Linked DNA regions of Homo sapiens. The protein of the gene in region 3 purifies or fractionates together with the protein of the main gene of each other region. This does not show direct contact. Each region holds a gene or a part of one and is shown on either strand. Other genes may lie near its edges. The genes, in order: HEXA, NUDT5 and SULT2B1.

The links.
Region 1: the proteins of SULT2B1 (region 3) and HEXA fractionate together in Homo sapiens (co-fractionation; one large-scale study listed by BioGRID). This does not show direct contact.
Region 2: the proteins of SULT2B1 (region 3) and NUDT5 fractionate together in Homo sapiens (co-fractionation; one large-scale study listed by BioGRID). This does not show direct contact.

Annotation. Positions count from the first base shown.
Region 1 is NC_000015.10:72,342,590-72,345,117, reverse strand, and holds part of HEXA (beta-hexosaminidase subunit alpha isoform 2 preproprotein), read left to right. Parts: intron 1-977; coding exon 978-1,041; 3' UTR 1,042-2,528. UniProt on the Homo sapiens protein: Hydrolyzes the non-reducing end N-acetyl-D-hexosamine and/or sulfated N-acetyl-D-hexosamine of glycoconjugates, such as the oligosaccharide moieties from proteins and neutral glycolipids, or from certain mucopolysaccharides.
Region 2 is NC_000010.11:12,171,892-12,175,391, reverse strand, and holds part of NUDT5 (ADP-sugar pyrophosphatase), read left to right. Parts: intron 1-1,578; coding exon 1,579-1,674; intron 1,675-2,525; coding exon 2,526-2,627; intron 2,628-3,500. UniProt on the Homo sapiens protein: Enzyme that can either act as an ADP-sugar pyrophosphatase in absence of diphosphate or catalyze the synthesis of ATP in presence of diphosphate.
Region 3 is NC_000019.10:48,583,082-48,586,814, reverse strand, and holds part of SULT2B1 (sulfotransferase 2B1), read right to left. Parts: intron 1-3,733. UniProt on the Homo sapiens protein: Sulfotransferase that utilizes 3'-phospho-5'-adenylyl sulfate (PAPS) as sulfonate donor to catalyze the sulfate conjugation. Responsible for the sulfation of cholesterol.

The DNA.
Region 1 (2,528 bases), on a different chromosome or scaffold from region 3:
CTTGAGCATCCTTGGATTTTGGTATCCACGGGGGTCCTGAAACAAATCCCCTGTGGATACTGAGGGACAACTGTATTTTGTGGCAAACACTGTGCTAAGTTTGTTACAAATATTGTCTCATTTAGTCTTCACCACAGCCCCATGAGACAGGTGCATTTTAGAGATAGACACTGAAGCACAGAGTTCAGGACCTTGCCCAAAGTCACTAAGAAGCAGGATTTGAACCAGGCTGACTTACAGGATGTCATGACACCTTTGCCTCTGTCAGGGATGTGCCTGTGTAAGATAGTCATTTCCCTGATTCCTTCGTTGGCTAGGTCTTGAGTACTTGGGGGACATAGCCTAGTGCAGAGCAGAGTCCTGGGCTGAGAGTCAAGCATGATGGTGTCTAAGCCTCAATTATGTCATTCACTGGGTAACTTCCAGCTGGTTCTCTAAGCATGTTGCTTACTTGGATGATAAGGGAAGCATGCCTAGAGGTCCCCTAAGGAGATTGGTCAGGTTATAGACTGAGACCCAAGGACAGGATTTCGCATCCATGTTCATGGACAGGACAGCACCTAAGTCCCCCAGTGCCACCATATTTACAGCATTTTAGAGTCAGGAACAGAGGGCTAAGTAGACCAAGAGCATTGGCTGCCTTTCAGACATCCATCTATATTCTAAAGGGATTGAGTTATTTGGGGTTAGGGTACAGAGATGGGCAGGATATAAATAGATGTCGCCAACGTTTCTGGATCTCCAAGACCTGTATCAGAATCACCTGAGGCACCTGTTCAGCTTGCAGATTCTTGCCAATACTTTGCCCCACCCCAGGTGAGAATCTCTGGAATTGAGATTCCCAGGTGCATTTGGTGTACAGTGACAGTTTGAGAGTCACCGAAATGGGGAAGGAGAGACTGTTGACTGGTGTGAAAAGTGTTGCTGGGGCCCCTTCTGAGGGGCTTATCTTGCCATTTCTTCATGTCCTCTTGCAGGCGAGGTGTCCAGGCCCAACCCCTCAATGTAGGCTTCTGTGAGCAGGAGTTTGAACAGACCTGAGCCCCAGGCACCGAGGAGGGTGCTGGCTGTAGGTGAATGGTAGTGGAGCCAGGCTTCCACTGCATCCTGGCCAGGGGACGGAGCCCCTTGCCTTCGTGCCCCTTGCCTGCGTGCCCCTGTGCTTGGAGAGAAAGGGGCCGGTGCTGGCGCTCGCATTCAATAAAGAGTAATGTGGCATTTTTCTATAATAAACATGGATTACCTGTGTTTAAAAAAAAAAGTGTGAATGGCGTTAGGGTAAGGGCACAGCCAGGCTGGAGTCAGTGTCTGCCCCTGAGGTCTTTTAAGTTGAGGGCTGGGAATGAAACCTATAGCCTTTGTGCTGTTCTGCCTTGCCTGTGAGCTATGTCACTCCCCTCCCACTCCTGACCATATTCCAGACACCTGCCCTAATCCTCAGCCTGCTCACTTCACTTCTGCATTATATCTCCAAGGCGTTGGTATATGGAAAAAGATGTAGGGGCTTGGAGGTGTTCTGGACAGTGGGGAGGGCTCCAGACCCAACCTGGTCACAGAAGAGCCTCTCCCCCATGCATACTCATCCACCTCCCTCCCCTAGAGCTATTCTCCTTTGGGTTTCTTGCTGCTTCAATTTTATACAACCATTATTTAAATATTATTAAACACATATTGTTCTCTAGGCACTGTGGTAGTGGGTTTTTTTGTTGTTTTTGTTTTTGAGACTGTCTCAAAAACTCTGTCGCCCAGGCTGACAGTGCAGTGGCACAATCTTGGCTCACTGCAGCCTCTGCCTCCTGGGTTCAAGCGATTCTCGTGCATCAGCCTCCTGAGTAACTGGAATTAATAGGCACGTGCCACCATGTCCATCTAATTCATATATATATATTTTTTTTTTCTGAGACGGAGTCTCACTGTCACACAGGCTGGAGTGCAGTGGCACGATCTCGACTCACTGCAAGCTCCACCTCCTGGGTTCACGCCATTCTCCTGCCTCAGCCTCCCCAGTAGCTGGGACTACAGGCGCCCGCCACCACGCCCGGCTAATTTTTTGTATTTTTAGTAGAGATGGGGTTTCTCCGTGTTAGCCAGGATGGTCTCGATCTCCTGACCTCGTGATCCGCCCGCCTTGGCCTCCCAAAGTGCTGGGATTACAGGCGTGAGCCACCGCGCCCGGCCGAATTCATCTATTTTTAGTAGAGATGGGGTTTCACTATATTGGCCAGGCTGGTCTTGAACTCATGACCTCAGATGTTCACTTGTCTTGGCCTCCCAAAGTGCTGGGATTAGAGGCGTGAGCCACCGCACGCGGGCCTGTGGTAAATTGTTGAATTTGAAGGACTCAGAGGCCCTGGTCAATTCCAAAATAACGTAGGCGACTTCCATCCCCCTCCTCCCAACCATTTTCAGCCCAAAGCATCTTCGCAGGGAATGGATGGCTGCGCGGAGGTGGGCGGTGGCTCTGGAGAGGGTCTTTGCAGGTGTGATTTTCTCTAGAAGGAAATGTCTCGTCGTGGACCCAGACTGCC
Region 2 (3,500 bases), on a different chromosome or scaffold from region 3:
TTACAGGCGTGAGCCACCACACCCAGCCTGAGTTTTTCATTATTTTATTTTATTTTATTTATTTATTTTTTGAGATGCAGTTTCACTTTTGTTGCCCAAGCTAGAGTGCAGTGGCACGATTTCAGCTCACTGCAACCTCCGCCTAACAGGGTCAAGCGATTCTCCTGCCTCAGCCTCCCGCGTAGCTGGAATACAGGTGCGTACCACCACACCTGGCTAATTTTTTGTATTTTTAGTGGAGACAGGGTTTCACCATGTTGGCCAGGCTGGTCTCGAACCCCTGACCTCAGGTGATCTGCCCGCCTCGGCCTCCCAAAGTGCTGGGGTTACAGGTGTGGGCCGCCACGCCCAGCCTTATTATATTTTTTAATTCCTTTCAGGAAAAAGAGTCTGCGTTGCTGCTCCCTTCCTCTTCCTTGGCCTCTCTGTTCACTCCTCACAGTGGCCATGGGAGTCCCCTAATGGCCACCAGTTTGCTCCTTTCTGGCCTTTCATTCCCAGGCCTCGGTGTTTTACTATGAGGGAGGAAGACAAGACAGGTGATGCTGTCAGCATCCTACGTGTGAGGAAGCAGAATATGAGCAGGCTTCCTGTGCTGCAGCCACACAGCAAGCTCCCAAGCCTAAGCCAGTTGGTCACCACCAAGTCACATCTCCTCACAGATGCTGCCCGTGCTGTGCAGAGCAGCGTGGAGATGGTCGTGAAGGCTCATGATGGATCTGGGTCTGAATAGGACGACTGGATGATGCCTTCAGAACCTGATTCATCTGCTCAGAGTTTTATTCTTTCGCCTTTTTGTTTCTATAAAAATTCCAAGCTGGGCACAGTGGCTCATGCCTGTAATCCCAGCACTTTGGGAGGCTGAGGCGGGTGAATCACTTGAGGCCAGGAGTTCGAAAGCAGCCTGGCCAACATGGTGAGACTAAATACAAATTAGCCTCTACTACAAATACAAAAATTAGCCGAGCATGGTGGTGTGTACCTGTGGTCCCAGATACTCAGGAGGCTGAGGCAGGAGAATCGTTTAAACCCAGGAGGCAGAGGTTGCAGTGAGCCAAGATCACACCACTGCACTCCAGCCTGGGCAACAGTGTGAGACTCCCATCTTCAAAAAAAAAAAAAAAAAGAGTTCCAATCCTCAGGTTTCTCTGTAAGACCACTTTTCACAGTGCTCCGATTCTCCTAACGTAGTGCAGCAGCAGGTGTGTTACAAGAATGAGGGGTTCAGCCGGGCGCAGTGGCTCACACCTGTAATCCCAGCACTTTGGGAGGCTGACGTGGGTGGATCATGAGATCAAGAATTCAAGACCAGCCTGGCTAAGATGGTGAAACCCCATCTCTACTAAAAATACAAAAAATTAGCTGGGCGTGGTGGCACGCGCCTGTAATCCCAGCTACTCTGGAGGCTGAAGCAGAGAATTGCTTAAACCTGGACGGGCGGAGGTTGCAGTGGGCCGAGATCGCACCACTGCACTCCAGCCTGGGCGACAGAGTGAGACTCCATCTCAAAAAAAAAAAAAGGAGGGTTTAAAGAACCGGATTTCCCGCTCCCATCACACCAATGATTTGGACTTGCAGGTCTCATAGATGATGGTGAAACCCCAGAAGCAGCTGCTCTCCGGGAGCTTGAAGAAGAAACTGGCTACAAAGGGGACATTGCCGAATGTTCTCCAGGTTGGTATTGCTTGAAAATTCACCAAGTGATGGATTCCTCCGTCTGGGAAGGGATTGATTATTTGGGTGTTCTTTACGCTCAGAATTCACTGAAGAGAAAGAAATCACAGATTAGGACTGGTCACCAAGTGTAAGGGAATCTCCCCTCCCAGGAGGAAACTGGAGCCAGAAGGGCCTGAAGTTGGGGGAGAATTAATGAAATTAAATTGCCTTTTGGCTGGATGTGGTGGCTCATGCCTGTAATCCCAGCACTTTGGGAGGCCGAGGCAGGTGGATCACCTGAGGTCAGGAGTTCGAGACCAGCCTGACCAACATGGTGAAACCCATCTCTACTAAAAATACAAAAATTAGCCGGGTGGCGCACACCTGTGATCCCAGCTACTCGGGAGGCTGAGGCAGGAGAATTGAACCCAGGAGGCAGAGGTTGCAGTGAGCCAAGATCACGCCAGTGCACTCCATCCTGGGCAATAAGAGCAAAGTGAAACTCTGTCTCAAAAAATCAATTGCCTTTAGGAATTTCCTACCCCCTGAGTTTTATTGCTCACCCATCTCATGCATGTGCTACCCTCATCACTGGAAGATTTTTTTGAGTTTGATGTGGTGAAGGGATTTTATGACTTGACAGTACCATCTAACCCCGCAGACCTAGCAAGCTTGACTCGAGAGCTCTGGGGAGAGTGTGAGTGCCCAGATGCTTTGCAGCCTGCAGATCTGCCTACCAAATGTGAGAACTAGTTTTCCCGCATCACCTCCACGTCAATGCTGAGCTGCGGGACGCATCTTCTTCCTAAGACCATAGTGAAACAAATGCCAAAGGGACTGACGCATCTGACTGTCCCTTCTCTCCACAGCGGTCTGTATGGACCCAGGCTTGTCAAACTGTACTATACACATCGTGACAGTCACCATTAACGGAGATGATGCCGAAAACGCAAGGCCGAAGCCAAAGCCAGGTATGTGTGTGTCGGCTGTGATGAAGGTGGTGTGGTTGCATTACGTGTCTTGGAACTTGCTGCTAGTTTGATTTATTAAAAGAATGTAGTCTTTCATGGAAAGAATCGGTCTTTCAAATAGACTTCATCAGTATTCTTGTCTCTCTTCCTAATCATGTATTTTAGCATTTTTCTTTTGCCACTTCATTCATCTTTACGCTTTCTTTGTAAAAAAATGTTAAATGACATATTTCCCTGTTTTCTATATGAAGTGTATTCCCACTTAGTAATATGAGCTGCAGGCTTAAGTAGTAAACAGTGAGAAACTTAAATCACCCTGGTTTCTGTCTTCATGTATATTTTAAGAATGGCCTAAGTTCCCCTGTAGTCCCAGCTGCTCTGGAAGGTGAGGCAGGAGGATCACTTAAGCCCAGGAGTTGGAGGAGCTATGATGGTGCCACTCTGTGACAGAATGAGACCATGTCTCTCTTAAAAAAAAAAAAATGGCCTAAGTAATTGTTAACGGGCAGCAGATTATTCACTATTTCTCTTTGCTCTATAATATTTCTTAGCAACTTTGGATTCAAAAGCTGTGATGTCTCTGTCAATTCCGTGTTGTCTCTCCCATCCTTTTAAAGGGGGTATTTATATGTGCACCACAGTAAATCAGTATCAGTGATATTCTTTAACTTCTTACCCTCTTCAGTTGTTCATATTTATGTTTCAGTATCCCACTGCAACTAATTTTAAGTCTTATTTTTTGCCGGGCGTGGTGGCTCATGCCTGTAATCCCAGCACTTTGGAAGGTTGAGGTGGGTGGATCACTTGAGGTCAGGAGCTCGAGATCAGCCTGGCCAACATGGTGAAACCCTGACTCTACTAAAAATACAAAAA
Region 3 (3,733 bases):
GAGCAATTTACCACCTATTTTATCACACTGATTCCTTACAGCTGGCAGAGAAGGCAAGGTTGCTTAACCTCATTTTCGGAGCCAGAAACTGAGCCTTACAGAAACCATGTCGCTCGTCCAAGGGGACAAAGCTAGGAAAGTGGTGCAGGGCAGAGACTGGTGAGCTGTCCACCCAACCCCATTTCATTTTTCTGCTGGGAATATGGCGTGATGACCTTTTCTCTTCTCCCCTGCTGCTATGTGTGGGGCCAAGAGACTGGGTCTGGCCAAGGAAGTATAGGTGGCGGCGATGTGATGTGCGGCTATTTCCAGGCCTGGCCCATAAACGCACGCCACGTGACTCTCCACTCCCTCTCTGCTTCTGGATACAGAGACTCCAGGGGAGAATCTGGGACTCCCGGGGATGGCAGAGCCATAAGATGGAAGGAACCAAATGTCTGGGAATGCATGGATATCCCCCCACCAACTTCCTTCCACCCTTCCTGCACCAACTACAGTTTATAGGAAAAAGAAACAAACTTGGCTTCAGCCGCTGAAATTCTGAGGCTGATCTATTAGTACAGCCAGAATTGCTTTACTTATTTATTTTTTTGGGGACAGAATCTTGCTCTGTCACCCAGGCTGGAGTGCAGTGGTGTGATCACAGCTCACTGCAGCCTTGAAATCCCGGGCTTAAGAGATCCTCCTGCCTCAGCCTCCCGAGTAGCTGAGACCACAGGTGCACACAACCACACCTGGCTAATTTCTTATTTTTATTTTTAGAAGACATACGGTCCCACTATGTTGCCCAGGCTGGTCTTGAACTCCTGGGCTCAAGCAATCCTCCTGCCTCAGCCTCCCAAGGTGCTGGGAGCAGAGGCATCATGCCCAGCAGGCACTCCTTTAATACATGGAGAAAGCTGGAATTGAACCCAGGTGTCTGGACATAAAAATCTCTGCTCTTTTCACTTTTCACTGCCCACTTTTGAGGGTCACCCCTTTTTTTATTATACTTTAAGTTTTAGGGTACATGTGCACAACGTGCAGGTTAGTTACATATGTATACATGTGCCATGTTGGTGTGCTGCACCCATTAACTCATCATTTAACATTAGGTATATCTCCTAATGCTATCCCTCCCCCCTACCCCCACTTTTTTTCTTTTTGAGACGGAGTTTTGCTCTTGTTGCCCAAGCTGGAGTGCAATGGCGCGATCTTGGCTCACTGCAACCTCCGCCTCCCGGTTTCAAGTGATTCTCCTGCCTCAGCCTCCCTAGTAGCTGGGGTTACAGGCATGCACCACCACGCCTGGCTAATTTTTGGTATTTTTAGTAGAGATGGGATTTCACCATGTTAGCCAGGCTGGTCTCGAACTCTTGACCTCCAGTGATCCACCTGCCTCAGCCTCCCAAAGTGCTGGGATTACAGGAGTAAGCCACTGCGCCCGGCTGAGGTTCACCTCTTTATTTCTGTGGGGAGCCACAGAATGTTACCTAGTGGAAAGGGACCTCATCAAGGACCCAATTCACAGTTTTGAATTTCAGGAGACCACAGGCTGTTCAGAAGAGAAACAATTACGTTCAAAATTACTTTCTGTTAGTATTCATTGCATTTAATTCTTTTTGAGACAGGATTCCGCTCTGTGACCTGGGCTGGTGTGCACTGTTGCAGTCACAGCTTACTTCAGCTTCAGCCTCCAACTCCCAGGCTCAAGTGATCCTCCCACCTCAGCCTCTGGAGTAGCTAGACCACATGTACCCAGCTTTTTTTTTTTTTTTTTTTTTTTTGAGAAGGAGTCTCACTCTGTTGCCCAGGCTGGAGTGCAGTGGCTCTATCTCGGCTCACTGAAACCTCTGCCTCCTGGATTCAAGCAATTCTCCTGCCTCAGCCTCCCAAGTAGCTGGGACTAGAAGTGTGCCACCACGCCTGGCTAGTTTTTGTATTTTTAGTAGAGATGGGGTTTTGCCATGTTGGCCAGGTTGGTCTCAAACTCCTGACCTCAGGTGATCCACCTGCCTTGGCCTCCCAAAGTGCTGGGATTATAGGCATGAGCCACCATGCCCAGCCTGCGCCCACCTAATTTTTAAAATTTTTGTAGAGATGGGGTCTCACTGTGTTGCCCAGGCTGGTCTGGAGCTCCTGGCCTCTAGCGATCCTCCTGCCTTGGCCTCCCAAAGTGCTGGGATTACAGGCGTAAGCCACCACATCCAATCCATTCACTGGATTTCATTCTAACAACCACCTTGTACCAGTTATCAGTTTACAGGCTGGTGGCTCCAACTTCATGCCTCTCTGCCGTTTTTGTGATATTGGAGCTGGACCCTGTAAACATTTCTCCTCTGCCAGCTAGCTCAGTGTTAAACCTTGTCAGCAGAGGGCGCTGGAGGAACACTGAATGAGGATGGGGCTCTTCCTGATTCTCACGAGCTCCTCTTAGCGGGATCTTGTGATGGACAGGGGCCAGCCCTGCACTAGACACGCAGTGACGTTTACCCCTCCCCCTAGCAAATTTCAGTGGCCTGTTGCACTTCAGTGAACTTCTCAGTCACCCAGTGGGTCATGACCATACCTCTGCAGCGAAACTCTAATCTTGTGTGGGGAGCCGGTTGGGCAGGGAAGTCCTTCTTCCCAATTTCTTTCTTTCTTGGGAGTTTGGCTTCAGCCCTAGAGGAAGTGGCTGCACCCTATTTTAGCTATTCCTGTGTGTGGTGTTTTTTGTTTGTTTGAGACGGAGTCTTGCTGTGTTTCCAGGCTGGAGTGCAGTGGCGCGATCTCAGCTCACTGCAACCTCCACCTCCCGGGTTCAAGTGATTCTCCTGCCTCAGCTTCCCGAATAGCTGTGACTACAGGCGCACGCCAGCATGCCCAGCTAATTTTTGTATTTTTAGTAGAGACAGGGTTTCACCATGTTGGTCAGGATGATCTCAATCTCTTCACCTCGTGATCTGCCTGCCTCAGCCTCCCAAAGTGCTGGGATTACAGGCGTAAGCCACTGTGCCTGGCCTTTTGTTTGTTTGTTTGAGACAGTCTGGCTCTGTCGCCCAGGCTGGAGTGCAGTGGCGCAATCTCCACTCACTGCAACCTCCGCCTCCTGGGTTCCAGCCATTCTCATGCCTCAGCTTCCCAAGCAGCTGGGACTACAGGCGCGCACCACCAGGCCCGGCTAATTTTTGTATTTTTAGTAGAGACGGGGTTTGGCCATTTTGGCCAGGCTGGTCTTGAACTCCTGACCTCAGGTGATCCGCCCGCCTCGGCCTCCCAGAGTGCTGGGATTACAGGCATGAGCCACTGCACCCGGACGAATTTCCTTCCTTTTTACAGCTGAATAATATTCCATTGTATGAATATAGCATAATTTGTTTATCCATTCATTCATGAACGGCAGATATTTGGATAGTTTCAGCTTTTGGTCATTGCAAATAATGTGGCTATGAACATTGGTGTACAAATATCTGTCAGAGTGCCCCCACCTAGTATTTAGTTCTTTTGGGCATATTCCTGGAAGTGGAACTGCTGAGTTAATATGGTAATTCTATCTTTAATTTTTTGAGGAACTGCCAAACTGTTTTCCATAGCAGCTGTACCATTCTACATGCTCACCAACAGTGCACAAGGGCCCCATTTTCTCAACATCCTTGCCACACTTGGTATTTTCTTCTGTTTTTTCTTTTATTTTTTATTTTTGAGACAGAGTTTTGCTCTTGTTGCCTAGGCTGGAGTGCAATGGAGTGATCTCGGCTCACTGCAACCTCCA